4 linked regions of the Homo sapiens genome follow. The protein of the gene in region 2 interacts with the protein of the main gene of each other region in a pairwise test. Each region holds a gene or a part of one and is shown on either strand. Other genes may lie near its edges. The genes, in order: KIAA1328, CCDC17, N4BP3 and MTUS2.

The links.
Region 1: the proteins of CCDC17 (region 2) and KIAA1328 interact in binary tests that used the Homo sapiens proteins (3 or more experiments, as listed by UniProt).
Region 3: the proteins of CCDC17 (region 2) and N4BP3 interact in binary tests that used the Homo sapiens proteins (3 or more experiments, as listed by UniProt).
Region 4: the proteins of CCDC17 (region 2) and MTUS2 interact in binary tests that used the Homo sapiens proteins (3 or more experiments, as listed by UniProt).

What each region holds. Positions count from the first base shown.
Region 1 is NC_000018.10:36,831,386-36,839,701, reverse strand, and holds part of KIAA1328 (protein hinderin), read right to left. Parts: exon of another isoform or gene 6,314-8,316; intron 5,500-6,313; exon of another isoform or gene 5,429-5,499; coding exon of another isoform or gene 5,383-5,428; coding exon 5,347-5,382; intron 4,469-5,346; coding exon 4,326-4,468; intron 1-4,325. UniProt on the Homo sapiens protein: Competes with SMC1 for binding to SMC3. May affect the availability of SMC3 to engage in the formation of multimeric protein complexes.
Region 2 is NC_000001.11:45,621,055-45,629,604, forward strand, and holds the start of CCDC17 (coiled-coil domain-containing protein 17), read right to left. Parts: upstream 3,001-8,550; 5' UTR 2,856-3,000; coding exon 2,682-2,855; intron 2,599-2,681; coding exon 2,503-2,598; intron 2,386-2,502; coding exon 2,163-2,385; coding exon of another isoform or gene 2,064-2,162; coding exon 1,901-2,063; intron 1,781-1,900; coding exon 1,697-1,780; intron 1,614-1,696; coding exon 1,495-1,613; intron 1,295-1,494; coding exon 1,187-1,294; intron 942-1,186; coding exon 823-941; intron 682-822; coding exon 584-681; intron 431-583; coding exon 227-430; intron 60-226; coding exon 1-59. Other genes in the region: GPBP1L1 (vasculin-like protein 1), read right to left, coding at 7,202-7,354, 8,522-8,550.
Region 3 is NC_000005.10:178,115,726-178,124,041, forward strand, and holds part of N4BP3 (NEDD4-binding protein 3), read left to right. Parts: exon of another isoform or gene 1-3,828; 5' UTR 3,829-3,858; coding exon 3,859-4,188; intron 4,189-4,452; coding exon 4,453-4,974; intron 4,975-5,372; coding exon 5,373-5,627; intron 5,628-5,748; coding exon 5,749-6,276; 3' UTR 6,277-8,316.
Region 4 is NC_000013.11:29,501,713-29,507,137, reverse strand, and holds the end of MTUS2 (microtubule-associated tumor suppressor candidate 2), read right to left. Parts: intron 4,146-5,425; coding exon 3,932-4,145; 3' UTR 1,191-3,931; downstream 1-1,190. UniProt on the Homo sapiens protein: Binds microtubules. Together with MAPRE1 may target the microtubule depolymerase KIF2C to the plus-end of microtubules. May regulate the dynamics of microtubules at their growing distal tip.

The sequences.
Region 1 (8,316 bases), on a different chromosome or scaffold from region 2:
AAGAATCAAATTGCTTCCAAATAATTTATCACTGTCTCAGAACCCAAAAAGGCAAAATGCATACTGTCTTGTGACATCCAATAAAAGACAACCAAGCAGGCAAAGAAGCAGAAAAATACAGCCTATAATTAGGAGAAAAATTGCTCAATTGAAACCTATCCACAAATGACTTGGATGATAGAATTCATAGTCAAGAATATTGAAACAGTTATTATAACTATGTTCCATATGTTCAAGAACCTAGAAGAAAGCATGTCAAGTAGCGACATGGAAGATGTAAACAAAAATAAGAGACTGAAACTGAACTTCTAAAGATAAAACTACATTGTTTCATATGAAAAACACACTGGATGAGATTAGTGGCAGATTAGACATTGCAGAAGGTTAATGAATTTGAAGACATAGCAACAGCAATACAAACTATCCAAGGATAAACAAAAAAATTTTTTAATGAAAAAAATATGAACAGAGGATCAGAGAGCTGAGAGGGTAACTTCAAGAGGCCTAGTATTTGTGCAACTAAGGTCACTAGAAAGAGAGGGAAACAAAAATATCTGGAGAAACAATGGCTGAAACATTTCCCAATTTGATGAAAACTATAAACCCACAGTCCCAAAAAGCTCAACAAACCTCAAACAAAAGAGATACTTTAAAAATTACTCCAAGGTAGGATGGGCATGGTGGCTCACACCTGTAATCCCAGCACTTTGGGAGGCCGAGGCGGGCAGATAATGAGGTCAGGAGTTCGAGACCAGCCTGACCAACATGGTGAAACCCCATCTCTACTAAAAATACAAAAATTAGCCGGGTGTGGCGGTGCACGCCCGTAATCCCAGCTACTCAGGAGGCTGAGGTAGGAGAATCACTTGAACCTGGGAAGCGGAGGTTGCAGTAAACCAAGATCGTGCCACTGCACTCTAGCCTGGGCGACACAGCAACTCTGCACCTCAAAAAAAAAAATTACTCCAGGGTATACTATAACCAAATTGCTCAAAACCAGTGATAAGAAGAAAATCTTAAAAGCAGCCATATTTAAACACATACACACAGAAAAATAAGGAGGAATAAAAATGACAGCCAACTTCTTAAAAACAATACAAGCCAGGCAACAGTGCAGCAACATCTTTAAAGCACTGAATGAATAAAACTATCAACTCAGAATTTTATAACCAGCAAAAATATCTTTTGAAAAGGAAAGAGAAATAAAGACTTTTCAGACATACGTGAGCTGAAAAAATTCTTTCCTAGCATACCTGAACTAATGTTAAAGGAAGTCTTTTAGGAAATCTGGATACACGTGAAAGAATGAAAACACCAGAAATGGTAACTACATGAGTAGATTTAAAAGACTTCTGTTGCATTTGTAAAATTTCTTTAAAAGGCAATTAAAATAAAATGCATCCAAAATGGAATAAAGGCATCCAATAAGAATATGTGAACTATCTCTATTCACAGACAACTTCATCTTATATAGAGAAAATGGTAAGGAATTCACAAAAGAACTATTAGATTAGAAATAGTTTGATAAAGTTGCAGGATACAAGATCAATTCACAAATCAACTGAATTTCTATATACTAGCAATAAACAATCCAACAGTGAAATTCAGAAACAACTGTGTTTCTAATAACATCAAAAAGTATAAAACATTTGCTGATTCTATAATGCCTATGGAAACACTGGGACCCAAAATAGCCAAAACAATCTTGAAAAAGAAGAAGTTGGAGGACTTATACTTCCTAATTCCAAAAATAAAAATATAAATCAATGGAACAGAATACAGAGAGTCCAAAAATAAACCCTTACACTTATGGTCAACAGATATTTGACAAGGGTGCCAAGAAATTCAAAGGGGAAAGGACAGTTTTTTTAACAAATGGTGCTGGGACAACTGGATATCTACATGCAAAGGAATAAAGTTAAACTACCACCTCACCCCATATACAAAAATTAACTCAAAATGGAATGAGAACTAAATGTAGGAGTAAAACCTTTAAAATTCTTAGAAAAAAAATAGGCACAAATATTTGTGACCTTGGATTAGGCAACAATTTCTCAGATATGACACCAAAGCAAAGGAGACAGAAGAAAACACTAGATAAACTGAACTTCATCAAAATTTTAAACTTCTGTGCTTCAAAGAACACCAATAAAAAAGTGAAAAGGCAATGCATAGAATGAGAAAAAATATTAGCAAATAATGTATCTGATAAGGGACTTGTAAATGGAATTTAGAAAGAACTCATAACTTAACAGTACTAAGACAAATAACTCAGTTAAAAAAGGATATGACTAGATATTTGTCTGACGAAGATACACAAATAGCCAAGAAGCACATAAAAACATGCTCATCATCATTTAGTCATTAAGGAAATGCAAATCAAAATCACATTGAATTACCACTTCACACCCACTAGGGTGGCCATCCTCAAAAAAGATGGACATAAATGTTGGCAAGAATGTGGAGAAATCTGAATCCTCATACATTGCTAGTCGAATGTAACATGGTGTAACCACTTTAAAAAACAGTTTGGAATTTTGTCAAAAGGTTAAACATAAAACTACACGACACAGCAATTCACTTATAGGTATATACACAAGAGAACTGAAAATATATGTCTACACAAAAACTTGTATATGAATGATCATGGAAGAATTATTCATAATAGCTAGAAAGTTGAACATGTCCATTGACTGATAAATGGATAAACAAAATGTATATTCAGACATAAAAAGGAATGAAGTAATGATACAGAATAGATGAACCTTGAAATCATTATGCTAAATCAAAGAAGCCAGTCACAAAAGGCCACATATTATGTGATTTCCTTTTATATGCAACATCAATAACAAGCAAATCTATAGAGACTGAAAGCAGATTAGTGTTTGCTAGGGGCTGAGATGACTGGGGAATGAGAAGTGCCTAATTGGTATGGGGTTTCTTTCTAGAGTGATAAAAATGTTTCGAAACTAGATTGTGGTGATGGATCCACAACTCTGTGAATATAAACACATACAAAATCAAAATAATAAACTGTACACTTTAAAAAGGTGAATTTTATATGCAAATTATATCTCAATTTGAAAAAAAAGAGAGTTGACTAAAGCAAATGTAATATGTATTTTGGGGTCTGTGCACATAAGTAAAATGTATGACAACAATATCAAAAAAGTCAGGAGGTGAGAAATAAAGTACAGTGTTGAAAGGTCCTTAAACTATAGGTAATGTGGGAAAATATCACTTGATAATAGGCTATGATAAATGAAAGATGTATACTATAATCTCTAAAGAAGCCACTGAAATAATCCAATCAAAAGTTATAGCCAATAGGACAAAAATATGAACTTAATCTAAAAGAAGGCTATTGTTCAATGTAAAACAAATCAACCATTATGTGAAAAAACATTTTTTAACTTTTTTTGATAAGAACTTGCAAATTCAACTATTCACACCCCAGTGTGAAGTGGGTACACTGGTACAAGTAACGTAAAGTAGGCCTTTTGATTCAATCACAGTAAAATCCTGTAGTAATAAATGAGGCACTGGAAATATCTTTGAGAACATAATTCACAGACTGAAAAAAGTTTTCTATAAAAGGTCTGATAGTAAATGTTTTTAGCTTGTGGGCATGCAGTCTCTGTAGCAACCCTGCTATTGTAACACAAAAGCAACCATAGACAATTATGTAAAACAATGAGCACAGCTGTATTCCAAAAAACCTTTATTTATAAAACAGGCAGAAGGATTTGGTCCACAGGTTATAGATTCCAGAACATTCATATACAAGTTTTGTGTAGACATCCTAGTGAGTGTGAAGTGGTATTGAACAACTCTGGTTGCAGAGGGAAAATATAACAAAAATTAAAGTAAAATAAACTGGTCAGATAGGACATGTGCCAAAGGAATGCACCGATACTATTACTATGCCTAGTCATTGATTTGTCCCTCATCTTTACGAGGGTTCATCTATCAAATAAATTCACAAGAATAAAAATCAAAAAGGATGCCTAATTAAAAAGCAATTCTCATCAGTTTGATTTACCAATGCCACACAGATCAGAATGTAGTTCTTTTGAGACATATCAAGATAATACATTATCATGGCTAATGCTTACAGCAAGTCAGATGTTTTGGAGCAAAACCCTTGAGTAATCCAGATAATTTAGGCTCAAACCTGGCATCATCAAAGGATCCTGGAATCCTCTGTATCTTTTAAGAATGTTTGTTGATCACCTAGTATACTTTCAAAGGTTCTTCTACCCTTTTTGGTCAGCACTCATAAAGACTGGAGAGCAAGGAAAAAAAAAGACGAAAAAAATACTAACCTGTTCATCTACTGAATCTCCTGTGCCTTTTAAGGACTCCATGGAGATTGAAGCATCAGTCACCCTGGAAGTCTTAAGTTTAACATCAGCTTTTGGACTCATCAGCTTGTGTCTTGATCTGACATTTCCTTCAGCAGAAATTCCTAAGGATTTCCATTAAACAAGATTTCAAAATTATACCTTATTATCTTAAACCCTCCCCCATCAACTCCTTCCTTGGAATCCTCTACTTTAAGGGACCTGATGGAGGAAACTCTCTTACTTTATAAACTTAATTTTAAAGCTCTTAATATATGAATCATAAAAAGAATATGTTTTAAAGAAATACACTAAAGATTGAATTGAAATTTGTTTTTATATTTATTTTTTTAAAGAGACAGGGTCTTCCTATGTCTATCCAGGCTGGACTTGAACTCCTGGGCTCAAGCAATCCTCCCACCTCAGCCTCTGGAGTAGCTGGAACTACAGGATCAAGCAACCACATCCAGCTTAACTGAAATATTTGTAAAGGGTACTGTAAATATTCATAAGTCACATTAAAACCAATAAATTACGATATGCCAAATATATGTTAACTTAGGGGAAATCAATGATATTTTTCACCCTATATAATGAGGGTGCCTTCAATAGTTGCTTTACTACCATCTAGTTACAACCATTAAACTTGAAGTGCCTCTTACATATACCCTGTATCAAGCAGTAGTCACACTTTTATTTGAAATATTAAATTTGGCTATCATTTGTAAAAGAAAAAATAAGAAAAGAATCTTTTGCCCCTTGCCACATGAAGTGTTCTACAAGTTCATTAAAAGCTGATTGGGCCAGCCAATCCCAAAGATAAGCCAGTATTTCAAACCTTAATAGGGTTATGACAAATATTCAAAAAAAACAAATTTTAGGTTTTGATGTACTGCTCTGCATTCAGTTATTTATACCCGCAACATTGTTCTAATAGCTTTATTTTCTTCTAACATTTAAGGACCAAAGTAAGCTTCCCAAATTTTAACATAGAAAATCATACCTGGAACGTATACTACTGATTGTTCTTCATCAGAAACTACGCAGGAGAACATGAAGGAAAATACAATAATATTATCCGGCATCCAAATGCTGCTTCTGTTCTGTATACCTCTTATAATTCATAATTTCTTTTGACCTGGGAATTTGTAACTAACTTTTAAAAACAAAGTTAGAAAGCAAAGTAATTGAATTAAAAACAAAGTTAGAAAGCAAAGTAATTGAATTAAATGTAGCAAAATTAATATTCTCTAAAAGTTCACCTTTATATATTCACAACTACACATCTTATAAAAATCTTGGAAGGTCTTGTTCCATGAAACTTTTATCCACTCTCAAGTGGGTTACCCTGCAATATATACTCTACTATTAGGTTCCTTTCCTTTTGTAAACAAAAACTTAAGTGCTCCAGTTTGGTCATTACTGAGGAACTGACAATTCTGAAGAGTAAATAATTTCAAGATAGACTTTAGCTTTGAAGAACAAACACTGAGGGCAAGTCAATCATGCAAACACAAAGACATTATTTATTCTTCTACAGTGTATTCATAAAATATCCCAAGAAGCCCTACTATTTAAAAAGTAGAAGAAATTTAAGACAAAAAGAACTATTTTGAATTTCAAAAGGAGAAATTTAGAAAGGCTATGATTATAACACACTGTTTTCAACTGTCACCTTGATCCAACTCAACTTTTCCTCTCCCAGGATTATTGCAATAAGCTCCTAACTGCTCTCTGTCACTTCTGTGCATGTTCCCTTAACAGCCTATTTTTTCACACAGTGGTTAGAATGATCATTTTAATAGTTATGTCATTTCTAATTTAGATTAAAAGCCAAAGTATTAACAACAGCCTGCAATGCTCAAGATCTGATCCCTGTAACTTGTTACATCTCTGATCTCACTTGCTACTATTCCTCTCACTCATTCCTGGCTTTCTTATAATTGTTAACAAGCTATGCAAGCTCCTACCTTATAGCTTCTGCAGGTATGATTTCTTCTACCCAGGAAGCTCTTTCCTCAAATATCTTCATGGCTCACTTTAGGACTTATGTCATATGTCATGTCATGTCACCTTCTGATTGAAGCTTTCACTTCCTAACCATATAGGTACTTGAAATTGCAAAACTCTCTCTTCCCACAACCTACCTACCTCCCGCTACTATCTGCCTCTTTCCTGCTTTATTTTTTCTCCACAGCACCAATATCATTGAACATAGGCCAGGTGCAGTGGCTCACGTCTGTAATCCCAGCACTTTGGGAGGCCGAGGTGGGCATATCACGAGGTCAGAAAATCGAGATCATCCTGGCTAACACGGTGAAACCCTGTCTCTACTAAAAATGTAAAAAAAAAAAATTAGCCGGGCATGGTGGCGGGTGCCTGTAGTCCCAGCTACTCCAGAGGTTGAGGCAGGAGAATGGTGTGAACCCAGAAGGCGGAGCTTGCAGTGAGCTGAGATGGCACCACTGCACTCCAGCCTGGGCAACAGACCGAGACTCTGACTCAAAAAAAAAAAAAAAAATCATTGAACATATATTTTCCTTATTCATGACCTGATCTCATCTCACTAAAATGTAGGCACCAAGAGGGTAATGATTTTTGTTTTATTTTGTTCAGTGTTGTACCCTCAAACATAAAAGAATGTCTGGCTCCATCTATGAAAGAATAAAATTGGTATTGATTTAATTTTATGAGGTGTTGTCCAACAACCTTATATGTTATATTTCTGTGATTCTAAATATGCAAACAAAACTTTTTTTTTTTTTTTTTTTTGAGACAGAGTCTCGCTCTGCCACCCAGGCTGGAGTGCAGCGGTTTGATCTCAGCTCACTGCAACCTCCACCTCCTAGGTCAAGCAATTCTCTGCCTCAGCCTCCCGAGTAGCTGGGATTACAGGTGCCCGCCGCCACACCTGGCTAATTTTTTTTGTAGTTTTAGTAGAGACGGCCGTTTCATCATGTTGGCCAGACTGGTTTTGAACTCCTGACCTTGTGATCCACCTGCTTTGGCCTCCCAAAATGCTGGGATTACAGGTGTGAGCCACCGCAAGCGGCCAACAAAACCTTTTACTTTCAGCTACATCCATGACAAATTTATTTTCAAATATATAAAACTCTAAACAAACTACTTCAATATTTTTAATAACAATATTTGAAATTGCCTCTATCCTTTCTAATAATTTGTAATGTATTTTCATCTCATTATATTAAGAACCCAAATATTTACCTCCTTCAAATCTAGAATTTCCCAACAAATGTATATTTTATGGGGAAGTCAAACAGACACATTATATACCAAATGTATAGTGGGCCTACTAGTGGGTCATTTCTAGATTATTTATAATACCTAAAACAATGTACATGCTATATAAATAGTAGTTAAATTGTACAGTTTAATTTGTATTTTTTTGTGTGCTATTTCTTTTTTTTCTCAAATATTTTCCATCCACATTTGAATGAATCAGCAGATACAGAGGGCTAACTGTAATTAGAAACCCAGGCAGAAGTGGTAGAGAGGAAGATGCACCTCTATCCCAGACCTCCAGGATTTGAAGGAAATAAGTTCAGTACTGCCCATTCTACTCTAATCTGCTGAGTTTTGCCAGCAATACATGTATATGTAATTATTATCAACCACAGAGACTTTCTGGGCTAATATATTATTTTTACCACAACATACAGTCTTTGTTTCCATTTGAAAACTCAACAGCAGAGATTATACTGCAATGTTTTGACCAGGTCACTTGCAGTTCATATTTTTTAATATCAAGTCCATGATATTGCTAATGGTAATACACTTGAGTGCATTTAAGCAGTCAAATTTAGGTACTGCTGAAACACTAACTCATTCTGACATTACTAGGAACTGTAATGAAGGACAAAGGCAACTTAAACTGAAGGAGCATATTTTGCTGGAAGATTTAACCCATAACATGACAACACCACACACTCATTGTTTACAGATGAGGTACTAA
Region 2 (8,550 bases):
CTAGCCCCTGCCAGACCTGCAGCTCACAGACCAAAGATACTGATGATGAGGGTGGTAGTCTGTAGAATAACCAAAAAGCAGTGTCGGAAGCCAGAGCTACAGTCCCTTTCTAGGACTTAGCCCTTTAGAGCCAGCGGCCTCTGTATACAGATGAGAAAACTTAGCAGAATGGTGGATAAGCCTCAACTGTGGCAGAGTACCAGAGTCATGATCCCCACCTACTGACCTGGGCACAGGCTGCCTGCTGGCAAGGATGGCACAGTTGCCCATGGGCCCGGGAGCAGGAGGTGGGGGCAGGCAAAGGGCTGGGGGCAACGCTGTGGTCCTTCCTGTATCCCGTCCATCGCGTGCCAAGCCAGTCCTTAGTTGCACCCAAATCCAGGAAGCCTCAAGGCCCCGCAGGAAATCATAGAAAATGACCAGGCCAGCCCTGGGGAACACAAGTCTTAGCACAGAAATACCCAACTCCTTTCAACCTCCCTCCTCTCAGGCAGGTCCCTAACCCTATCTGGTCCTAGTGGGCTCCCTTAACCAGCAGTGCTGGCCAAGTCACAGAGGCTGTCGAAGGTGGCACGGGCCTCACCCAGGATCATAGGGTGCAGGGCCCAGCATGTCCGATGTGGGCAGGAGGAAGTGTGAGTCCAGGCCCAGGTTTCTGGTCATTGTTCCAGGAAGCTGTGGCTGTGGGGAAGAGAGCTGACTCCTCCAGAAAGCCTTGTAGCTGCTCATGTTCCCCCAACTGCTCAGAGCAGAGCTGCCTCCAACCTGTTCCCCCAACCCACCCCGTGTCCTCACAGCCTTTGCCCCACCCAAGAACTGAACCTCCGAGAAGCCTGGAAGTGGTGGCAGCGGTGGTGCCACCGGTGGCGGGAGGAGTGGGGGATCTCTCCTCCCCTTCGGTTGTAGGCTGGCATCCCCCAGGAGTCGCAGATCCTGGGGCCCTAGGAGCAGAAGAGTTAGGGTGCCCCTAAGTTGGACAAAGCAGGTAATTAGCTGAGATACCCCTCCCCCAAGAGTTGGGCCCACAAATGGGTTGGCGGAGCCCTGTGGATACAGGGATACACACGTGCAGACATGAACTAGGGGAGTCACAAACACGGGTCTTGTTCCCCATGCACTGTCTGCCTGAGCCAGGCCTGCTGGGGAGAGATAAGTGGGATGGGATAGGGTTGGGGTGCTCACTGACCCAAGGGTGCCCGACCCCTCTGCATTTGCAAGGCCAAGATTTCTGCCTCCAAGCGCCGGTTTTCAGCCTCCACTACTGGAAGCTCCCCTGAGGTGGCACCTGCCCTTCCTGCGATGAACAAGTGTGACCTGTCACCTTTGACCTCTGGTGACTGGCCGCGTCCGGCTGTGAGCAGCTCTCCAGCGCTAAGGCTCTTCGGATAAGGCTGGACTTGTCAGCTCACATGCCATCCACAGCCACAGGCCCTCCCTCGAGTTCTTTTCTCCTCCCAGGACTGACCACCGCTGGCGAGAGGCCCTCCTGTTCACCTCTGCGGGTCTGCGACCGCTGCAGCTCCAGTGCAGACGCCTCCACCTGCAACTGCCATATCTGGCCCAGCACGCCGGGGTCCCGGCCCCCGTCTCGAATGTAGGCCTCCCGCAGCGCCCTAGGGAGTGGGGAACAGGAAGGCCGTCTTTCCAGAACTGCTCAGCGCTTCGCCCTATGCCCATCTCCGGCCCCGGCTCTCACCGGATTTCGGCAGCCAGAGTTCCCGGGTTGGCCTTTTGCACTGGAGAATAAAGTTCTGCCTCTCGCCGGGAGCTCAGCGGGTTCCTGGGGTGGCAGGCGACGCGCAGGGAGACGGTAACGCATCAGAGGCCCCGGGGCTGCAGCCAGCCCGCCCCTCCCACCCCGGAGCCGCATGTTCCGGGGATCCGCTTAGTCGGGTCTCACCCTGGCTCCGCCTGCAGCTCCTGAATGCGGGCCCCCAACACCTCTAGAGCTCCCCGCGTCCTCCCGGCCTCAGCTTGTAGTTCTCGAATCTCCTGCTCCAGGCCGAAGAGGCGGGACATCCCGCCCCGCGTACAGGCCACAACTTGGAGGCGTCGGCTCAGTTCTGAGGGAATGCGGGCCGAGTCAGAACCGGCCCGAGCAAGCTTAAGCCAAACGGCGAGGGCAGAGGAGGTCCTTGGTCCCCGTCCCCCATCTCCTTCACCCTCGCCGCGTAGCTGCAGGGCCCGGCTCTGCGCTTCCATCTCCGCCACGCGCCTCGCGCGAGTCCTGAACAGCGCCCGCAGCCGCTCGCTGGGGCTTCCCACCGCCTCGGACATGGGACTCTGAGGCCGCGCCTCGGAACGTGTCCAGGGCCCCGCGAACACCCTGGGGACCTCTGTTATCCAGGGCCGCATTTCCTGTAGGGATAGCCGCAGCCACTGCACCTGGAGGTAACAGCGATCCGCGATCTCTGCGTGGGCAGAATCTGTCCCAAGTATGATCTACAGGTTTGGGGAAGACGCTCAACGTTTTGAGCCCTGGGGGAAGGTAGGTAGCTCTACCTCCTCTGTTAACCTCTTTAGAGCAGATCTACTGGCCTGCTGGTCTGGGAGGCCCTGGGGTTCTTGTGGCACGCCCTGGTGTTCTTGTGGCACAACCTGGGGATAGGGTGTAGTAGGATGAGGAATCATAAAGGTCCTGGCTCCTTTGAATCCCCACCCATGGCCATGGAGGCCCTTACCGCGGCCCGCTGGGGTTCAGTGGCAACTGATGCCTGTGCTCCAAATGTCATCTCTTGGGTCGGGTGGCCAATGCAGAAGCGCTGAGTATGGGTGGCTAACAGAGCTGAGGAGCGGAAAACCATGTCACAGGTCCCACAGGGCAGGAGCGCAGGCTCCCCAGAGTGGGAGTCCATGGGATGGGACCCGTTTCCTGAAACCAGCCAAGACCTGCAGAAGGGATCAAGGGCAGGGGAAAGGCAGAGGAGGATGAAAGAGACATAAAGCCAGAGGCAGAGAGGAAAGGCCGTGTCTATTAGGTCTGTGAGATCTTCAAGTTTGTTTGGGGAGAGCCTTAGCTCCCTGGACAGCAACCACAGGGCTGGGCAGGTCAGGAGAATGGGTGGGGAAACCTCGGCCGTTTGGGAGGAGCCACTGGCTTGAAAAAGTGTTACAAAGTCTGAACGTGGGCAAGTCTCTAATTGTAGCTTGGTTTCCCTGACTATTAATAAAGAGGAAAAAGCAGCTGCCTCCTAGACTAGGCTGGGCCCTTATCACTTACTACATCATTGGTCATTTAATAGCCTCTAAAAGGCAAGTGTCATCTTTTTCATTGCTGTACTCCCAAGTGGATGTAACAGTTTGTACCATTCTCCAATCCAGAGAACTACCTGGCAAAGGAGGCACTCTGACCTTTCCAGCATTCTGCCTGGAAACCATGTCGCACCAGGGATAGCAGTCTCCCTAACTCCCATTCCCTGATTCCTCATTTTTCAGCTGTAGACGAAGATAATCAGCACAGCCCAAGAAATGAAAGCTGTGGGCGAACAGAATGAATCTATCAGATGAGGGAATCAAGTCCAGAAAAAAACCCCTTCTCTCTCCCAAGATTGGCCAGAAGCCAGAAAGACCCTGAACTGTTGGTGAAATTCTTCACTCCACTCCCACTCCCAAAATATATGGAGGAGCTCTGAGGTGACCGCATATTTCTTAAGAAACCCTCTTTACTTTTTTTTTTTTCTTTTTGAGATGGAGTCTCGCTGTCGCCCAGGCCGAAGTGCAGTGGCGCGATCTCAGCTCACTGCAATGAGCTCTGCCTCCTGGGTTCACGCCATTCTCCTGCCTCAGCCTCCCAAGTAGCTGAGACTACAGGTGCCCACCACCACGCTTGGCTCATTTTTTGTATTTTTTAGTAGAGACGGGGTTTCACCATGTTAGCCAGGATGGTCTTGATCTCCTGACCTCGTGATCTGCCCGCCTTGGCCTCCCAAAGTGCTGGGATTACAGGCGTAAGGCACTGCGCCCGGCCAAGAAACACCCTTTTCTCTTCTTTTTTTGAGACAGTCTCGCTCTGTTGCCCAGGCTACAGTGCAATGGCACGATCTCGGCTCACTGCAAGCTCTGCCTCCCAGGTTGACACCATTCTCCTGCCTCAGCCTCCCCAGTAGCTGGGACTACAGGCACCTGCCACCACACCCGGCTTTTTTTTTTTTTTTTTTTTAGACGGAGTCTCGCTCTTTCGCCCAGGCCGAAGTGCAGTGGCACTATCTGGGCTCACTGCAAGCTCCGCCTTCCGGGTTCAAGCCATTCTCCTGCCTCAGCCTCCCGAGTAGCTGAGACTACAGGTGCCCACCACTGTGCCCGGCTAATTTTTTTTGTATTTTTAGTAGAGATGGGGTTTCACCGTGTCAGCCAGGATGGTCTTGATCTCCTGACCTTGTGATCCGCCCGCCTCGGCGTGCCAAAGTGCTGAGATTACAGGCGTGAGCCACTGCGCCCAGCCTTATGCCTGGCTAATTTTTTGTATTTTTAGTAGAGACGGGGTTTCACAGTGTTAGCCAGGATGGTCTCGATCTCCTGACCTCGTGATTCCCCCGCCTCGGCCTCCCAAAGTGCTGGGATTACAGGTGTGAGCCACCATGCCTGGCCGAAACTCCCTTTTCTAAACAAGACAGGGACTTAAGACATTTCCCTACTCAGTACCTAAAGCCAAGGTATGACCCACCAGCAGCAAGTTACAAAGTGTTCAAAGTATGTCATCTCAGTTCAGCTTAATTCCAACTGACATAAAGAGTACATTTTTAGAAATATGTTCTCAGAAAACAAGTAAATGGCAAAGCCCAAATCAAAACCTCCTTTTCAACAACTAAGTTTGTCCCAATTTTCAATGGTTAAGACTTTTGACTGGTTGACTTTACAATGGTGCAACAGTGATAGGCATTCAGTAGAAATACTACTACCATTTTTTTTTTTTTTCCCTCAAGAGACAGCTTGTAGTTCTCTAATCTCCTGCTCTAGGCCGAAGAGGCGGGAGCAGGACTGTCATCCAGGCTGGATTGTAGTGGTGCCATCATGGCTCACTGTAGCCCTGAACTGCCTTGGAATCAAGCAATCCTCCTGCCTTAGCCTCCCAAGAAGCTGGGACTACAAGTGTGTGCTACCACGTGGACCTGTCTATTTTGTTTCTGTTTTTGAGACAGAGTCTTGCTCTGTTGCCCAGGCTGGAGTGCAATGGTGCAGTATGGGCTCACTGCAACCTCTGCCTCCTGGGCTCAAGCAATTCTCCTGCCTCAGCCTCCTAAATAGTTAGGATTACAGGTGCTTGCTGCCATGCCTGGTTGTTTTTTTTTTTTTTTTTTTTTGAGACAGAGTCTCACTCTTTCTCCCAGGCTGGAGTGCAGTGGCGCTATCTCAGCTCACTGCAAGCTCTGCCTCCTGGGTTCACGCCAATCTCCTGCCTCAGCCTCCCGAGTAGCTGGGACTACAGGCGCCCGCCACCATGCCTGGCTAATTTTTTGTATTTTCAGTGGAGATGGGGTTTCACCATGTTAGCCAGGCTGGTCTCGAACTCCTGACCTCAGGTGATTCACCCGCTTCAGCCTCCCAAAGTGCTGGGATTACAGGCGTGAGCCACGCCTGGCTGGACCTGACCATTTTAATGTTTTTGTTTTTTATAGAGACAGGTCACTGTGTTGCCCAGGCTGGTCTTGAACCCCTGTCCTTTTCTTACATCACTGTCTATTCTCTCCCCTACTGGGCTGGGCACTCCTTGCATCCTCAGAGCCTTGCATAATGCCTGGGACATACAACACGGGCTTAGAAAGTATTTGTTGAATGGGCCGGGTGCGGTGGCTCACGCCTGTAATCCCAGAACTTTGGGAGGCCGAGGTGGGTGGATCACAAGATCAGGAGATCGAGACCATCCTGGCAAACACGGTGAAACCCCATCTCTACTAAAAATACAAAAAATGAGCCAGGCGTGGTGGCAGGCGCCTGTAGTCCCAGCTACTCAGGAGGCTGAGGCAGGAGAATGGTGGGAACCCGGGAGGCGGAGCTTACAGTGAGCTGAGATCGCTACTGCACTCCAGCCTGGGTGACACAGTGAGACTCCGTCTCAAAAAAAAAAAAAAAGTATTTGTTGAATGAAAAAACCTGCTTCCTTCACTAGCCATTCAGCTACCATCGTCCAACTCTCCCCCAACCCCCACTCCAAGTTCTTATTTAGTAGGAAAACAGAACAGACTTCCCTTAAAATACGTACACTGGTAAATACATGGGCACTAAAAAACAGTTTCAGGAAAAAAAAAAAACTTGGTTTCTGACTTTATTACTGGTAATTTATTGCACAGGTTTTTCTGCATCAAAAAAGTATCTGCTAAAATAGAGAAACAGTTGTGTCTGAATTCACATTTCCCCCCAACTTCTAAAAATATTTCCCCTAAAAAAGAATCCACTCATCTAATTTTAAAGAAAATATACTTCTTACACAAGACAATCCAAACTGATGCAAAATATTTATTCCAAGTTAGTTATTTTATGCAGTAGTTTCCCCCTCGAGACTTGTGATAACCACATCTTTTAAATCTGTAAATAATGTTATCAAAATAATCTTAATCTTTGAAATCTCACAAAAATTTATATTTTACAATCCACCCTGAATATCAAGGCTGCAAGAATAACACAACATTTCCTATATCCAAATATTTTACAGCTGTACCCAAAAAGGAAAAAGAAAAAAAAAACAAAAAAAAACAACCAAAAAAACCCACATATGCTTGGTTAAGGGCTAAAGTTACCCGAGCAGCCAAAAATAAAATAAAATATCCAAATTATTAGCATTAATTTAATACAATTATAACTTCAATAGTCACTTTGTCATTGACAATGATTGCTTGATCACAGGGGTGAGTGCCCCAAGGGCTGGTAGTAGAAGCTGTTGCTGCAGACCAGTGTCTCCTCTTCCCTGCACTGCCAGCTCCTACCTGTGCATCGCCCCATATATACTGGGTGTGTATGTGTGTGTGTGTGTGAGTGTGTTTAAAAAATCTGTCCCACCACACAAACTTCTCTCTATAAAGCAGATAACAGGGAAGAACAATAACAAAAGCAAAACAAGCCAATTGCTCTCTCTTTGGGATATGATTATTTCCCTTGTGAATGAAGTATTCAACAACATAAGAAAAGGAAAAGAACGATTTCTTTTGTATACTCCCTAAACACACAGAGTTTACTGGGTCAGATTTAACTGTGAGCATTTATATGCCTACTTCCAGGCATCGTCATCTGATGTTTCACTGCTACTGGTTTCGGTGTCTGAGTCCTCAAACTCTGCTTTGCAAGTGCTTCTCCAAGGGGAGAACAGACTGGAACTGCGGCTCTGCAAGAAGCCATTCTTTCCAAAGCCATTTCTTCTCAGCTATGGTTAGCATGGGAGAGAAAGAAAAAAGAAAAAAATATCAATGACTGTACTGACCCATAAGCCCTGGGAAAGGCCAGGCCTCAATTCAATTCTAGGTAGAATGTGGGGCGGGGGGTGCTTCTAAGAGACCCTCTGAGATCTCTTATACCAGTACTTTTCAAATTTTAATTTACGAGTCATCTACGCATCTTTCAAAAATGCAGATTCAGATTCAGAATGTCTGGGATGGGGCTTGAAAGTCCTTATTTCTTTTTATTTATTTATTTTTTTGAGACGGAATCTCGCTCTGTCACCCAGGCTAGAGTGCAATGGCACAATCTTGGCTCACTGCATCCTCCGCCTCCTGGGTTCAAGCGATTCTCCTGCCTCAGCCTCCCAAGTAGCTTGGATTACAGGCGCACACCACCACGCCTAGTTAATTTTTGTATTTTTAGTAGAGATGGGGCTTCACCATATTGGCCAGTATGCTCTTGAGCTCCTGACCTCGTCATCTGCCTGCCTCGGCCTCCCAAAGTGTTGGGATTACAGGCGTGAGCCACTGTGCCCAGCCATAAGTCCTTATTTCTAACAGAGTTCTAAGTGGCAAGGTCTCACATCAGCTTGTGCCATGCCCCTTTTAAGGACTTGGCCAATTGTGCTGTAAATACAGGCCACCAGAAGTTCAAGGATTTTTATAGAAACCCCATTTGTCTTGTTCACCCTAAGATCTAGCAGTGTTTTATTCAGAGAAAGAATCCAAGCAACTGCTGGATAAACTGACACAAGCTATTTAGCTTCTTAGCTCTGGCCAGAGGACCAGGAAACTACAGTGCAGATCAGGAAGCAGAGGAAGGTGAACCTGCTTCCTTAAAGACCAAGAGCTCAGACCATAGCTCTGGAACACAGCCTTGTGGTTCTGATAAGGAGTTAGAGCTGTTAGGATGAAAGAGCATACTATTTTTTGGAATCTGCTAATCACTGACACTTGGTTTTTGTATATAACACTGGGGATCCTTATTTCCCAGGCAGATTTAGGGGCCCCACTACATTTCTACTAAGGTAATCCCCCCCCCCCCCACCCGATCTTTCTCTCACATTAAACTTGCTCCCTCAGGGCAAGAACTGTCTTGACTCCTTATTCTCCTGGTTACTAACTGGTCTCTAGGAAGAAGGTTTACAACATACCTGCTCTGTCTTCATGTGGAACTCTTTGA
Region 3 (8,316 bases), on a different chromosome or scaffold from region 2:
AGGGCACCAACAGGCTCTGGGACGCCCCCCTCAAAGAAAGCGCGTCCTCTCCTTCTTTGCTTCCTGGCCAGGGCAGCTGTGTCTTCCATCTCCACCAAGGATTGGTCCGAAAGCAATTCCTCTCCGTGTTCAGAGATTCCAGTGCTGCCTGCTAATCTTGGGGACTGGAGAGGGGTGAGGGGACTGGTGGCGGGGAGCAGGAGTGAAGAGGCCTTACTGGGGCTAGCCAGGACCTGTGGAGAATGTGGCTTGAATGTCCCAGCCCAAATCTAGCCAGCTGTGTGGCTGGGGGTTTGCCGCTCCCAGCTCAGGGAAGCCCAGGCACTTGGCTTGTCCCCTACCCTTCTCTCCACGACCCGTGCAGGGTCCCCGGCTTTTTGCTCTGATGTTCCAGTGAGGCTGCAAGGCACTTGCTGTCCTCCCTCCCTCCTCCCCCACCAAATCCCCTCCGCCTGCACAGCTGCCCTGCCCAGCTGCCCTGCCCGGAGCAGGCAATCCCTGGGCTTCCAAGCAACAGGAAGGAAGGAATGTATGTGTTGGGGGAGGGGGTGGAGGTAGGATGGACCCCTTTAGGAAAAGAGACTGTCCCCACTCTGTGACATACGCAGGGAGGAGTGTCCTGAAAGCTGGGGGCCCCCGCCCTGCTGGGGGAGCTGATAATCCAGTCAGTCAGCCAGGAGGGGCACAGTGGGGACGGTGGGGGGCCTAAGGAGAGACAAAGGGAAGGGGCTGTCTGCTGCTCCTTCACTAGCCTGGGGGCTGGGAAGGACACTAGGTCATCATGCCACTGGGCTGCTCCTGCTTTGTCAGTGTGTCCTGTGGGTGACCTTGTGCACAGCTGTATGATTGTGTTTGCTGCTGGACGTGACCGTCTGCACCGTGTCCTCTAACATGGGCTCTCTGTGCTGCTGGGTGGGGCTGACATGTGGCACACCGTGGCGTGTGTGGTTGTATGCGCTGTTGCGGCCGGTGGCTACCTCTAGCTCAGGGACTTTCCCTGGACCTGCGATGCCTCGTGGGGAACCTGGGGGTCGGTTATCTCCTCGAGACAGGAAGTGAGCATCTGCCCACCGGAAGCTGAGGCGGTGTGCATTTGGGGTGAGGTGGGCGTATTTGGCACTGCTGCCAACGTCCCCGCCCCCAGGGCCACACAGGGCTTACATTTCATAAGCCCTTTCCCCTCCATCTCTGACTGTCAGTAATCCTTTGAGGAAAGCCGGGCAGGCGGGGTCTTTCCCACTTCATTTTTTTTTCCTTTTTAAAAATAAATAGAGATGGGGTCTCGCTATGTTGCTAAGGGTGGTTTCAAACTCCTGGGGTCAAGTGATCCTCCTGCCTCAGCCTCCCAAAGTGCTGGGATTACAGGTGTGAGCCACCATGCCTGGCCCTTTCCCGCTTCAGAGATGCAGAAACTGAGGCATGGCAAAAGGCGGAGCATTTGTGTCTGGGGTCCCCTGGAGAGAGTGAGGGCAGGCTGGAGAGCAGGTCTCTGCTGTCCCCTCCCCAAGAAGCAGCAACAGGAGTTGAGCGTGCTTGTGGACAAACCACATCTCTGGCTGGATGGGCTTGTCGTGGCAAGGAGGTATCAGATGAGGAGGCAGGATGCTTCCATTCTAATACTTTTGGCTGTAGGGACCAATCCTAGGTCCCACTAGACATTGGGCAGCCATGACCAGCTACGACCTTGGGCAAGTCACTTCACCTTTCTGAGCCCCACTGACCTTTAAGAAGGGTCAATAGCTGGGCACAGTGTCACGCACCTGTGTTTTTAGCTACTCAGGAGGCTGAAGTGGGAAGATGGCTTGATCCTAGGAGTTCGAGGCTGCAGTGGGCCATGGTTGCACTACTGTAGTCCAGCCTGGGTGACAGAGTGAAGAGCAAGACCCTGTCTCAAAAAAAAAAAAAAAAAAAAAGAAGGGACAATAACTCTGTCACAGGACTCAGCAGGACCCGTATGCAGGGCCAAGTCGCTGTAGGAACCCATCCCCTGTGATTCCTTACCTGGATGCATCTCCTATGTAGCCTGCAACGTGCGTTCTCAGGGGCTGGGCTGGGTGGGGTGTGCAAACCCGGATTCGCCCCATCCTGGGTTTGGGGGTTGGTTGGGGGAGAGCTGAGGTCATTTTTGCACAGGGTGAGGTGAGGCTGTGGGGTTGGGGCAGGTCCCCCTCCCGGAGAGCTTTGTCTTCCACAAACACAAAACCTGGAAATGGTTGAGGAAGATGGAACCTCCTAACGACCATTGTTCGGGGGCAGGAGTGGGTGCCCGGAAGCATGGGTGGTAGTAGGGGACCCACAGCTGCAGCTGGCCTGCTGGGCTTCTGTTCGAGAATGGGAGCAGCTGCTCAGGGGTGGGAGGCAGAGAAGGTGGCATTTGTTCACTCGGCCAGACCTTTCTGCACGCCCGCTCCATGCTGGGCACTGGGCTGTGCAGAGGATCCCCAGGGGACTAGGTACCAGCCCTGCCTCCAGAGTGTGTGGCCCAGCACAGGTGGAAGGTGGTCCGTCAGCCTAGTCCCTTGGTGATGTTTGTGTGCCTGGCTGAGCTCGGCTCCAGCCAGCCTGTTGACCCTGGCTGTGGCCCAGGCCCTGAACTGGGTGCTCTGTCATGTTATCCCACCCCATCCTCCCAGCATCCCAGTGATAAGTGTTATTGTCGCCAGGGTGTGTGTGCGGAAGTCCAGGCTCACTGAGGTTAGTGGCTTGGCCGGGGTCACACACCGATTGGTTCCGCCAGGGTTAGGATTTGGGACCCACCCTGCCGGGTGGTGGGCTTTGGAATAAGAGCATATACAGGGGCTGGAGTGAGTCCAGCTGCCCCTTCCCTCCTCCACCCACCACTGCCCAGACGGGAACACCTGTCCCGGAAACTGTGGCCATTGTTCACGTCATCCTTCCTCCTTTTGGGCCCTTCCTGTTTGTATCCCTCCCACTGTAGCCCCCAACCCTCCCCCCCATGCCAGATGTTTCCCTTGGGGAGCTTTGCCCTTTGCAGGAAGAGGGCCTGCAGGGGTTACCCCTCTCCCATGGGAAGGAGGGTCTCACTGGCCTTGGGTCTCTGTGCCTTCTCCCCACCCCACAGATTTGGTGGGGAACATGGCAGGAGGGTAAGCAAGGTCAGGTTCAGCCAGGCTGAGTTTTCTTTTTTTTTTTTTTTTGAGATGGAGTCTCCCTCTGTCGCCCATGCTGGAGTGCAGTGGTGCGATCTCGGCTCACTGCAAGCTCTGCCTCCCAGGTTCATGCCATTCTCCAGCCTCAGCCTCCCGAGTAGCTGGGACTACAGGCGCCCACCACCATGCCCGGCTAGTTTTTGTATTTTTAGTAGAGATGGGGTTTCACAGTGTTAGCCAGGATGGTCTGCGTTTCCTGACCTTGTGATCTGCCTGCCTTAGCCTCCCAAAGTGCTGGGATTACAGGCGTGAGCCACCGCGCCCGGCCAAGTTTGTCTTCCTTAGCCCTGTGCGGGCCCAGTGCTGGGAGGACGGCTCCTGTCCTGCTGCTTCCAGGCCTATCCCCTCCCGGTACTTCTGAATCCCACACAGGCCCCGAGGTGGAGCTGGCCCTTCGGTGCTCGGCTGGGGCACCATTGCTCTTCCTTAGACTCAGTCCAGCAAGTGACAGATGGGCAGGTGGCTTTGGGGCTTGTACTTCTTTCTCTTGCCAGTCTAGGGATCCTGTCCCGGGGTTCTCTCTTGGACCCACATCTGCCTTACCTGGGCCTGGGCAAGGTTGTGGGGAGCTACAGGGAGCAAGTACCTTGTTTTCAGGCCCCAGGGAAGTTGGGCAGCCAGTGCTCACCTGCCCCTAATGGAGCCTCCCAATTCCCAGAAGCAGCTGCCTGTACCCTGTTGAAACTTCATGGCCACAGCCCCAGGCCCTGCTGGCATTGCCATGGGCAGCGTGGGCAGCCTGTTGGAACGGCAGGACTTCTCCCCTGAAGAGCTGCGGGCGGCACTTGCCGGGTCTCGGGGCTCCCGCCAGCCTGATGGGCTCCTCCGGAAGGGCTTGGGCCAGCGTGAGTTCCTCAGCTACCTGCACCTCCCCAAGAAGGACAGCAAGAGCACCAAGAACACCAAGCGGGCCCCTCGGAACGAGCCTGCCGACTATGCCACCCTCTACTACCGGGAACATTCTCGCGCGGGTGACTTCAGCAAGACCTCGCTGCCAGAACGGGGTCGCTTTGACAAGGTGCACCTTTGCCCATGCCCCTTACAAGGTGTGGGGAGGGTGGGGTCTCCTTGGAGACCCTGATGTTGGGATGGGGTGGGGACGGGGCATGCTGAGATACGAAAATCGTGCTATGGGCTGGCCTGAGGTTTGTTCACTGCCTCCTGGTGGCACGTGCCCCGCGGTCTCAAAGAGGATCCCTCAGGGGCTGTGAGAGCATCAGGAGGTAGAGCAGGCAGCTGCCCAGGTCTCACACCTGCCCTCTCTGCCCTCTCTTCCTGGCAGTGCCGCATTCGCCCCTCAGTGTTCAAGCCTACGGCGGGCAACGGGAAAGGCTTCCTATCCATGCAAAGTCTGGCGTCCCACAAAGGCCAGAAGCTGTGGCGCAGCAATGGCAGCCTGCACACGCTGGCCTGCCACCCGCCCCTGAGCCCCGGGCCCCGGGCCAGCCAGGCCCGGGCACAGCTGCTGCACGCCCTCAGCCTAGATGAGGGCGGCCCTGAGCCCGAGCCCAGCCTGTCCGACTCCTCCAGTGGGGGTAGTTTTGGTCGCAGTCCTGGTACTGGCCCTAGCCCCTTCAGCTCCTCCCTTGGCCACCTTAACCACCTCGGGGGCTCCCTGGACCGGGCCTCTCAAGGACCCAAGGAGGCTGGGCCACCAGCTGTGCTGAGCTGCCTGCCCGAGCCACCACCCCCCTACGAGTTCTCCTGCTCCTCTGCCGAGGAAATGGGAGCCGTGCTGCCCGAGACCTGTGAGGAGCTCAAGAGGGGCCTTGGCGATGAGGACGGCTCCAACCCCTTCACGCAGGTGAGGGAGCCCCTGCCCTGGAGTCCTGTTCTGTGCCTCAGCACTGGGGTACAGGCCAGAGAGAGGGGCCCCAGCCAGTTCACCCACGTGGCCGTGGACACAAGAGAGCAAGAAAGGGGGAGCTGGCTTGGCTTCCTTCCTCTGCATCCCAGGTGGTGGGGATGTCATGTCACTGGGGGTCCTTGCCTGGGAGTTGTGTGGGAAGGAGAGAGGCTCCCTGGGAGGGCCATGTGATGGGGACACCTCACCCTGGAGGGCATCCCGGGTTAAAGCGCATGTGTGGCTGGGTCCTGTGGTGTAGGGGCACAGGATATGATCAGTGGCTGGAGTATCAGGTGGAGCTCTGAGTCGCCTCTAGGGGGCAGGGCCACGGTGGATGCATCTCTTCCCCTTGACAGGTGCTGGAGGAGCGCCAGCGGCTGTGGCTGGCTGAGCTGAAGCGCCTGTATGTGGAGCGGCTGCACGAGGTGACCCAGAAGGCTGAGCGCAGCGAGCGCAACCTCCAGCTGCAGCTGTTTATGGCTCAGCAGGAGCAGCGGCGCCTGCGCAAGGAGCTGCGGGCTCAGCAGGGCCTGGCTCCGGAGCCTCGGGCCCCCGGCACCCTCCCAGAGGCTGACCCCAGTGCACGACCAGAGGAGGAAGCCCGATGGGAGGTGAGAGATGACACAGGGCTCCGAGACTCTCCCATCTCCATTGCCGGTCCCTTCTTCTGCCTGCCCCCTCCCAAACCGGCTCCCCACACCCTACTTTGCTTGCGTCCTCCCCATCCCCCAGGTGTGCCAGAAGACAGCAGAGATTAGCCTCTTGAAGCAGCAGCTGCGTGAAGCCCAGGCGGAACTGGCCCAGAAGCTGGCGGAGATCTTCAGTCTGAAGACACAACTTCGGGGCAGCCGGGCACAAGCCCAGGCTCAGGACGCAGAGCTGGTCCGGCTGCGCGAGGCTGTGCGCAGCCTGCAGGAGCAGGCCCCTCGGGAGGAAGCCCCAGGCAGCTGTGAGACTGATGACTGCAAGAGCAGGGGCCTGCTAGGGGAGGCAGGAGGCAGCGAGGCCAGAGACAGTGCTGAGCAGCTGCGGGCTGAGCTGCTGCAGGAGCGACTTCGGGGCCAGGAGCAGGCGCTGCGCTTTGAGCAGGAGCGGCGGACTTGGCAGGAGGAGAAGGAGCGCGTGCTGCGCTACCAGCGGGAGATCCAGGGAGGGTACATGGACATGTACCGCCGCAACCAGGCACTGGAGCAGGAACTGCGGGCACTGCGGGAGCCCCCCACACCCTGGAGTCCCCGGCTCGAGTCCTCCAAGATCTGAGGCCAGCAGAGCGAGCTGACAGCAGCAACACTGTCAGAAGGTGCCCTGAGACGGCCGGCTCAGCCTTCCCTTGCACTGGTTGGGGTGGAACCTGCAGAGGCCAGCCCGGGGCTGGGGAGGCGCAAGGAGAGGAGGGATCCAGTGGGGCCGTGGGCTGGGTAGGGTGCCTTGGCAGGAGCCAGGACAAGGCCCTCCTGGCAGAGGAGCACCTAGGCAGGGCCCAGCCCTGCTTCCTGGAGTGGATGTGGCCCAGAGAAGGAGGCTGGGGGATCACCAGCCCCAAGGTCCCGAAGGGCAGGTCAGAGGGAGAGAGGCTGGAGACCTGGGCTGGGGCCTTCCTCCAGGGAAGGAGGCTGGGGTGGGAACACTGGCCTCCCCCAGAATAAAACCATGTTTTCTACCAGAGGCTCAGAATACGCTGAGCCTGTGACCAGAGGATGATGGATGGTCGGGATTGAGGCTGTTGACCTGGGCAGTAGCTCCTCCCATGGCCAGTGGTCAGTGGGAGGGTGTGCCCTGCGCCTGTCTGCATGGCCACTGGGCATGTGTGTTGGGAGCAGAGGAGTCCTACTCCTTGCCTCAGCCCCACACGGTTCCTTAGCTGCCGTGTGGGCTGAAATTCCTTTCTTTAGCACCAGTGGAGTTTTCAGAAGGAACAACACCAGGGAATGCCAAAAAAACAAAGGGCAAGTCAACCAAGGCATTTTGAGAACATGAAATGTCTTCTTGGTGGGAAGGCTGGGCCCCAGGAGTATCCACAGGCTCAGGCCATGCCCCTCCCCGCACCCACCTCCTGTCTCCCTCCCTCCCTCCATAGGAGTGGGGGGCCCCTAGAAGTGCTCTGCCTCATTCCCTGTTCGTAGGAAGGTGCAGGAGAGGAGGTGGGCAAGCTTATGGGTTTCTTGGTAAAGAGCCTTTACCACAGCAAGGAATGGGAACATTTCCCCATCAGCAACGGGGCTCTAGGGCATTATTAAGTAGGGGTGAAATATGATTGATTTGCATTCTGGAAAGCTCTCCCAGGAGGAAGCATTCCCCACCCCACCTTGCCTCTGTCCTGCGCTGGGCTCCAGGACGGTCAGTCCTCCCGGATCCCTGCTCTCAGCTAAGGCTGGTCCCTAAAACCCACACCTGCCTTTGGTCTCTCAGAGGCCTGGCTTGCCCTCTGGGCCTTTGCTCCCCCGCTGGGTGCCCGGCCTGGAACACAGGTTCTGTCTGGCTGTGTGAGTGGCGTCTCTCCCTTCCTTTGAGGGAAGCTCAGCTTTCTTACGCGCTCATCGTTGGACGGGCTGCCATGCATTGCGTGCTTACTGGGCGCCAGGTGCTGTGCTGGGCCCTTGTGAGTGTGGGGGCACAGGCTGAATTAGATGAGCTCCTGCCGCAGGGGGCCCTGCACACTGATGTCAGCTCACCAGTCTCTTCCCTGACAGGGCAGCTCAGGGAACTTCTGAGAAGTTATCTGCAGAGAGCCCCACCTCACTCCCTTTGGCTACCCTGGCCGTGCCTGGCAGCCCCTCAGGCCCCACAGGTGGGTCCTGGTTGTGAAGTGGAGTTAGTGCACATGGATGTCAGGGGACGGGTGTGAGGCATGAGCTGGGGGGGCCCCCTTTTTCAGGGCAGAGAATGAGGCGTGTGCACTGTCTGCTGTGGGGATGGTGTGTTTATGGCCATGTAAGTGGCAGGTGTGTGTAAAGATGTGCTTGTGGGTGGTGGGTGTGTCTGAGGGGGTGTGTTTGGGAGCCTGGCCTCCAAAAGCCAGTGTCTGGGTTGGAGACAGTGCAGGCCCCTTCTTGGCCCCACCCTCTACCCCATTCCTTCCTGTCAGCCCCAGTCTGTCTTGGCACTGGCCAGGCTTGGGTGGAGCCTGTGTCCCAGACAGATCCCCTAGGCCTATCTGAGACCCATACAGGCCCACACCTGAGCTCCTGTCTGCCTGAGGAGGGAAAGGGGGAGTGGCCAGGTCAGGCAGGCCAGTCGTCTACACACCCCCTTGGTACCCATTCCCATTTCACAAACTCCTCCAAACCCCAAACCCCAAAC
Region 4 (5,425 bases), on a different chromosome or scaffold from region 2:
CATTTGACAGACTCTCACGTGGGCAGGATTCTCACCACTTGGTGGTTACAGATGAGGTGACAGGGTGCAATCCCAGAGTCATTGCTCGAAGTGTACACACTGATGCAGCAATGGCTTTGAGAACATCCTTCAACTTCAATCGCAGGTGGGAAGCTGTCCAACCATTTGGTTTCCACCTGTGCTTAACTCCGTAACTCCCTTCTTGCTAGGGGGATGCAAGTCTCCCACGAAGGGAGAGCCAGCTCTCAGGGCTCCTTGGCACAGAGGAGGTCAGTGAGTGAGTTGACTTCCAGAGTCTCCTCTGCCTACTGCAAATGAGCCGTGGAAGGGGACACCATTCTCCATGGACAGTGGAAAGCTGGCTCTAATCTCACCTCCTGCTCGTGTTGGTGGCTGCCACCCATTTGCTCCTTTGTTATGTGGAGGTGCTGCCAGCTGCCTTGTTTACCGCATAAGGTGGGGTAAGGACAATGGGAGGGGGTCATTATGAAAGTGAAGGGTGCTCAAGACACCCCAAAAGAAACAAACAGGTTAGGACACGTGGCCAGATAGATAGATTATTAATAACTAGATTGCCATCGATATACTGGGATGACCCAGAGGTGGCCCTGGGGTGTTCCCTGTGAGGTCCGGAAGTGAATTTGTGTCTCCAAAGGGTCTGTTGTTCACTACTTGTTCAGGAGGGACTTGCTGATCTCGCTGAAATAGCTGCCACTCCCACAGACCCTGCAAAACCACCACAGGGAACCTGCGAACCCAGCTGTCTCCCTTGTGATGGTGCCAGACACCTGTGGGACACTTCGAGGTCCAGCTGGCTAAACCGGCTGCAGCCCAAACTGAAGGCCATCGGGATGGGGGGAGCAAGCACTTTCAGGTTGAAATGAGTGAATGACCTTTTATGTCCTCCTTCCAGCCAACTCCAGCGCACCCGGCCTTGCAGAGCAGAGGCACTGAGCTCCCAAGTCCAGGGGAGGGGCTGCTCAAGCCCCCAGGCTGGAGGGGTGGGCGCAGGGACCTGGGACCTGCGGAGTCAGGGGAGAGGGGGTCTCTACAAGACTTCTCTCACGGACCATCACCCAACCCCGGCACACACAGAAAAGGGGTCCAGCCTGCAAACGCCACCCCCCTTGCCTCCCTGCCTGGGATCCCCAGCCTGAGAGGGACAGGTCTCCAGTTACATCAAGTAGATATCGCAGAAAGTCCCTCAAGTTTATTTTAATAGGCTTTAAACACAAATATGCAACACAAACTGTAGGGGCAGGAAAAGGGATGTTGTGACCCCATTCATTCAACTAATCACGGCCAGGGCTGCCCCCACCCCCATCCATTCTGACATCCAGCCAGAACCTTGTCCCAGCATGTGGTGGGCAGGGGCGGCGGTCGGGGGGCAGGCCGCCCACGCATCTCCCAAATGCCACGAAGAGACAGGTGGTATCTGGTGGGTCTGTCTGAGGCAGGTGCAGAGGCTGCAGCATCCGAACGTGGAAACGTCGCTCCAGCCTGGAAGGGGACAGAGGCAGACGCCACGTGGAGAGAAATCCGAATTCTGATGGTGTGGGGGGGTGGAAGAATTGAGAAGGAGGCACAGCAGCTGCCGCCCCATGTGTTTCGGGAGCGGTGATGGCTCAGATGAGGAGCCATACATGATGGGTGTCCGTAACAAAAGAAAAAAAACAAACAAACCACGAAGCCAGGGCCACGTGGAAATTAGCTCAAGTACCCAAGGTCAGGGCAGGTTAGGGCAAAGCTCTCACCGAAGTCCACCTAATGAGGAATTACTTAGTGCTAACGATGCTACAACTCTGACCACAGCAGCCTAATACACTGTACCACGTTCTAGCATCACACGGAAGTCAGTATTGCTGTGTAACTGCATTTAGCAGGTGCGGCTATGTAAGCGGTTCCTAATTCGGACAGCTAAGCTGTAACTGAATTTGTGTTTGCAGGTTGTGCCTGCTACTAGAATAAATACTTGTGTATTTAGTCAATGTGGCAAGATCTACTCTAATGGAATGCCCAACTCAATATCACAGTATCATGCAGAGCCACTAAAGCAAAGAGAAATGGTGGTGTTTCCATGTGGATTTACTGTGTACGTCCCCAGAAGGAGCAAGACCCTTGGAGGTTGGCTGGAGATGCACCTGAGGCCCGGAAGCCCAGCGTGGACTCATCCTAGGGCCAGGGACCATGTCTGCCTTCACGTTGGCAACACGTGTGCCGAGCAGGCGTGCCCTGGACAAGCCGACCCCGTCCGCGGGCTGTTTTCTTCCCCGTTCCATGGCTCCGGCCCCTGCAGGACCCCCTCATGGTTCTTCTCGCCTTGGGCACGCTCAAAGACAGGCCTGTGCTCAGGACAATTTTGGGGGGGTCTCAGGGAGAAAGTGCAGGGTCTTTGTCACATACAGGAAACAAGGGCATCATCATCATCACCATATCTGTTAAAACTACTTCTTCCTTTTGTGTATCATGCTCCTAATCTTCCACACCACTACATGAGTACTGTTCATATCCTAATTCTACCATTTTAGAGACAGATGCCAGTCCAGGAGCTGGTGCCCCCTGGCTGGCTGTTTCACTGGGCTCCTCTGTTTGGGAGAACCTTCTGGGTCTAAGATGGGAGCACGGTCAGCAGCAGCGTTGCCTGATCATCCAGCAGGAAGTGCAAGTGGGTTTCTGGGTGGTCGTGTGATGATCTAGCACAGCTCAGAACTGGTCCCCCGGGACAGAAATGGTGTTTTTTTTTTCTGGAAGCCCCTGCTAGAACCCCTGAGCCATCTCAATGTGCAGTGAAGGGGTTGAGTTGTAGAACCAAACTGAAGGGGGGCTGCTAGGAAATGGGGGCCTGAGGGTCCTATTTCAAAGAGTTGATCATTTACAGCATCGCATCAGAGTGAACCACATGGAAAGCTGGAGTGATGTTCCCCCTCTGTGCCTGGTCAAAATACAGACCTTGGCAGCAATTTCCTTCATGAGGATGGAGCGCGAATGGGCACAGTCATCTGCAAGGTCATCCTCACTCTTACTCAAAGGTCATGCTCTGCCATGTTTTCCGGAGGGTGCAACAATAGCTTAATGACCGAGTCTGAGATGCCATTTAGGAAAAAAGCAAAACTTGTGTTTACAAGACTATCAGAGATGAGTCACTGTCATGGGTAACATCTGCAAAACTGCTAAACCCCCTTAGGGTTTCCCACTGCTCTCCCTTATCCGCTCATGACAGGAGTATCAATAATTAAAACTTGCGAATGGAATAATAGTGATCTCACATCATGTTGACTGAGAAGCTGATTGTTCCAAAGGCAGTTACCGTTCACAAATAGCTGGTGTTCGTGTTAAAGAGAGTACCACTTGGTGGTGAGTTGAAAGGCGCTTCTTCTCTGTATCTTTTTTTTTTTCCTTTTTCTATTTTGGGTAGAAATATTCCTGGGAAGCTAGATAGAAATGCATTTTCATTTCCCAATAATTCTTAGGCACAAGTTAGAAAACTGCTGACCTTCACTAAAATATGTCAGCACTTCATGTTATAAAAAATGAAATTCAGAACCGCAGCATGTGTATATACGTATATCTAAATATACACACATATCGGTGCAGTACACAATGATTATTCAATGTATATTGAAAACTGAGCTTTTTGTAACTAACCTGAAATTCTGCAGTGAAAGTTCATTGCTCAAGAACAATTGCAAGTGTCTTTCTTTTGGCTCTAACTATGGTAAAACGTTTGCACATCAGACTTTACCATTTACACATTCCTAAGTGCCGACACCAGGGCAGTCTTACACGGGGATCAGAGGAGGACGCGCCTAGGATGCATTCGCAGCTACTGAGCATGCGCACAGGGCCAGCTCCGGCGGCACCGGGTCGGTGCTCCCTCAGGGTGGAGACCGGAGGACGAGAAGCCGGAGCTCCCGCAGGCCGTGTAGTGGCGTCATCTGGGTGTTGTGCTGACTCTGGCCGGAGAGGAGGGCCCCGAGGAGGAGCCGCGGTAAACGGGAGATGTGGGCGAGAGTTTAATCGGACTGGTCGGGTCCCCAGTTTGGAGCTTCCAAAGCAGCTCTTCATTGGTTCGGCTCAATCTCTTCTTCTCCTGGGTTTCCTTCTCAACATATTCCTGGAGGTTAGCATTTTCCTCCGACAGCTGTCTGCATGGGCACAATGACAAATAAGTAGCAATCATGCTAGTGGACACTGAACCTGAGGTCAGGACAATGGTGCAGGGCAAAGGGAGGAGGCCATGATGACCGCAGGGAGAACAGGGACCAGGGTGACCCAGTGACCAAGAACTTTGGTTGAATCATGATTTCCATTTGGCCCAATGACACATCTGTTCCCAGAGCCTCTCTGGCCAATACCCATCATCCCACAGGCCCTCTGCCCGGTCAGGGGAGGCACTGGCTGTCCACTGGACAGAGCAAAGGCCAGCGACTGAAAGGAGGGAAGCGGAGAGCTGGAGTGGGTATGCTGCCCGGAAGCTCCGAAAGGAGAGACAGCCGCGCAGCTGGCAATTGACAATGACAACAGCACAATAGCAGTGAAGAGCCGCGGGCCTTCCTGAGACTGCCAGGAAGCTGGGGGTGCCTTCTCCTGGCCTCCCTGCCCCAGGCTTGTGCCTCCACGATGGCAGGTGTCCTCCCCTGCTGGAAATGCTGCTCTAGGGGTCTGTGTCTGCCTGCTAGACTGGGAGCTCCGGAGGACAGAGGCCAAGGCTCTGCATGCTGAACTCCCAGCATCCAGCTGGTGCTAGGCACGTAACAGATGCTCAGTTAATGTTTGCCGATAAAGGCTGGTGGGTGAAAAAATGAATCCGAATTGCTTGCTTTGTTGCATTTTTGAAGAATGACAGCACCTCTGAGGAACTGACAGGAATAAGTACATATGCATTTTAAAGCTGGACAGACTGAAGTCCAGAAAAATCACCTCTGTTGGATAAAGTCTGCACTTGCTCTGCTGACAAGGGCACCTTTGCAGCTTCCGGAGCAAAGAGAGCTTGCTGCCCCCAGCACAGCCTTTCCTATGTGCCTCTGAGGTGAGAACAAAATGCCTGCACTAGGGGCTTAGTTATGGGGGCAATGGCTGTGTGTCCATTCATGCATGTGTGCAAGAGCGTATGTATGTGAGAGAATGTACATGTGAGAATAAGCATGTACATGTGAAGAAAAGCATGCACGTGTGAGTGTGCAAACAGGGCATGTGAATAGGTGTGAGGGATTGTATGAGTATATGAGTGTGTGCGTAAGTGTATGAGAGTGTGCCTGAGTGGGAATATGCAAGTGTGTGTGTGAGTGAGCAGTGCCTGTGTGAGTGCATGTGAGTGTATGCATATGCACGAGTTATGTGTGCAAGGGTAACACACCATGGGTGAGCATTGAGGAGCCTAGCTGAGTTGAGTGGGCAAGGGTTCAGGCCTGGGTCTTACTGATAT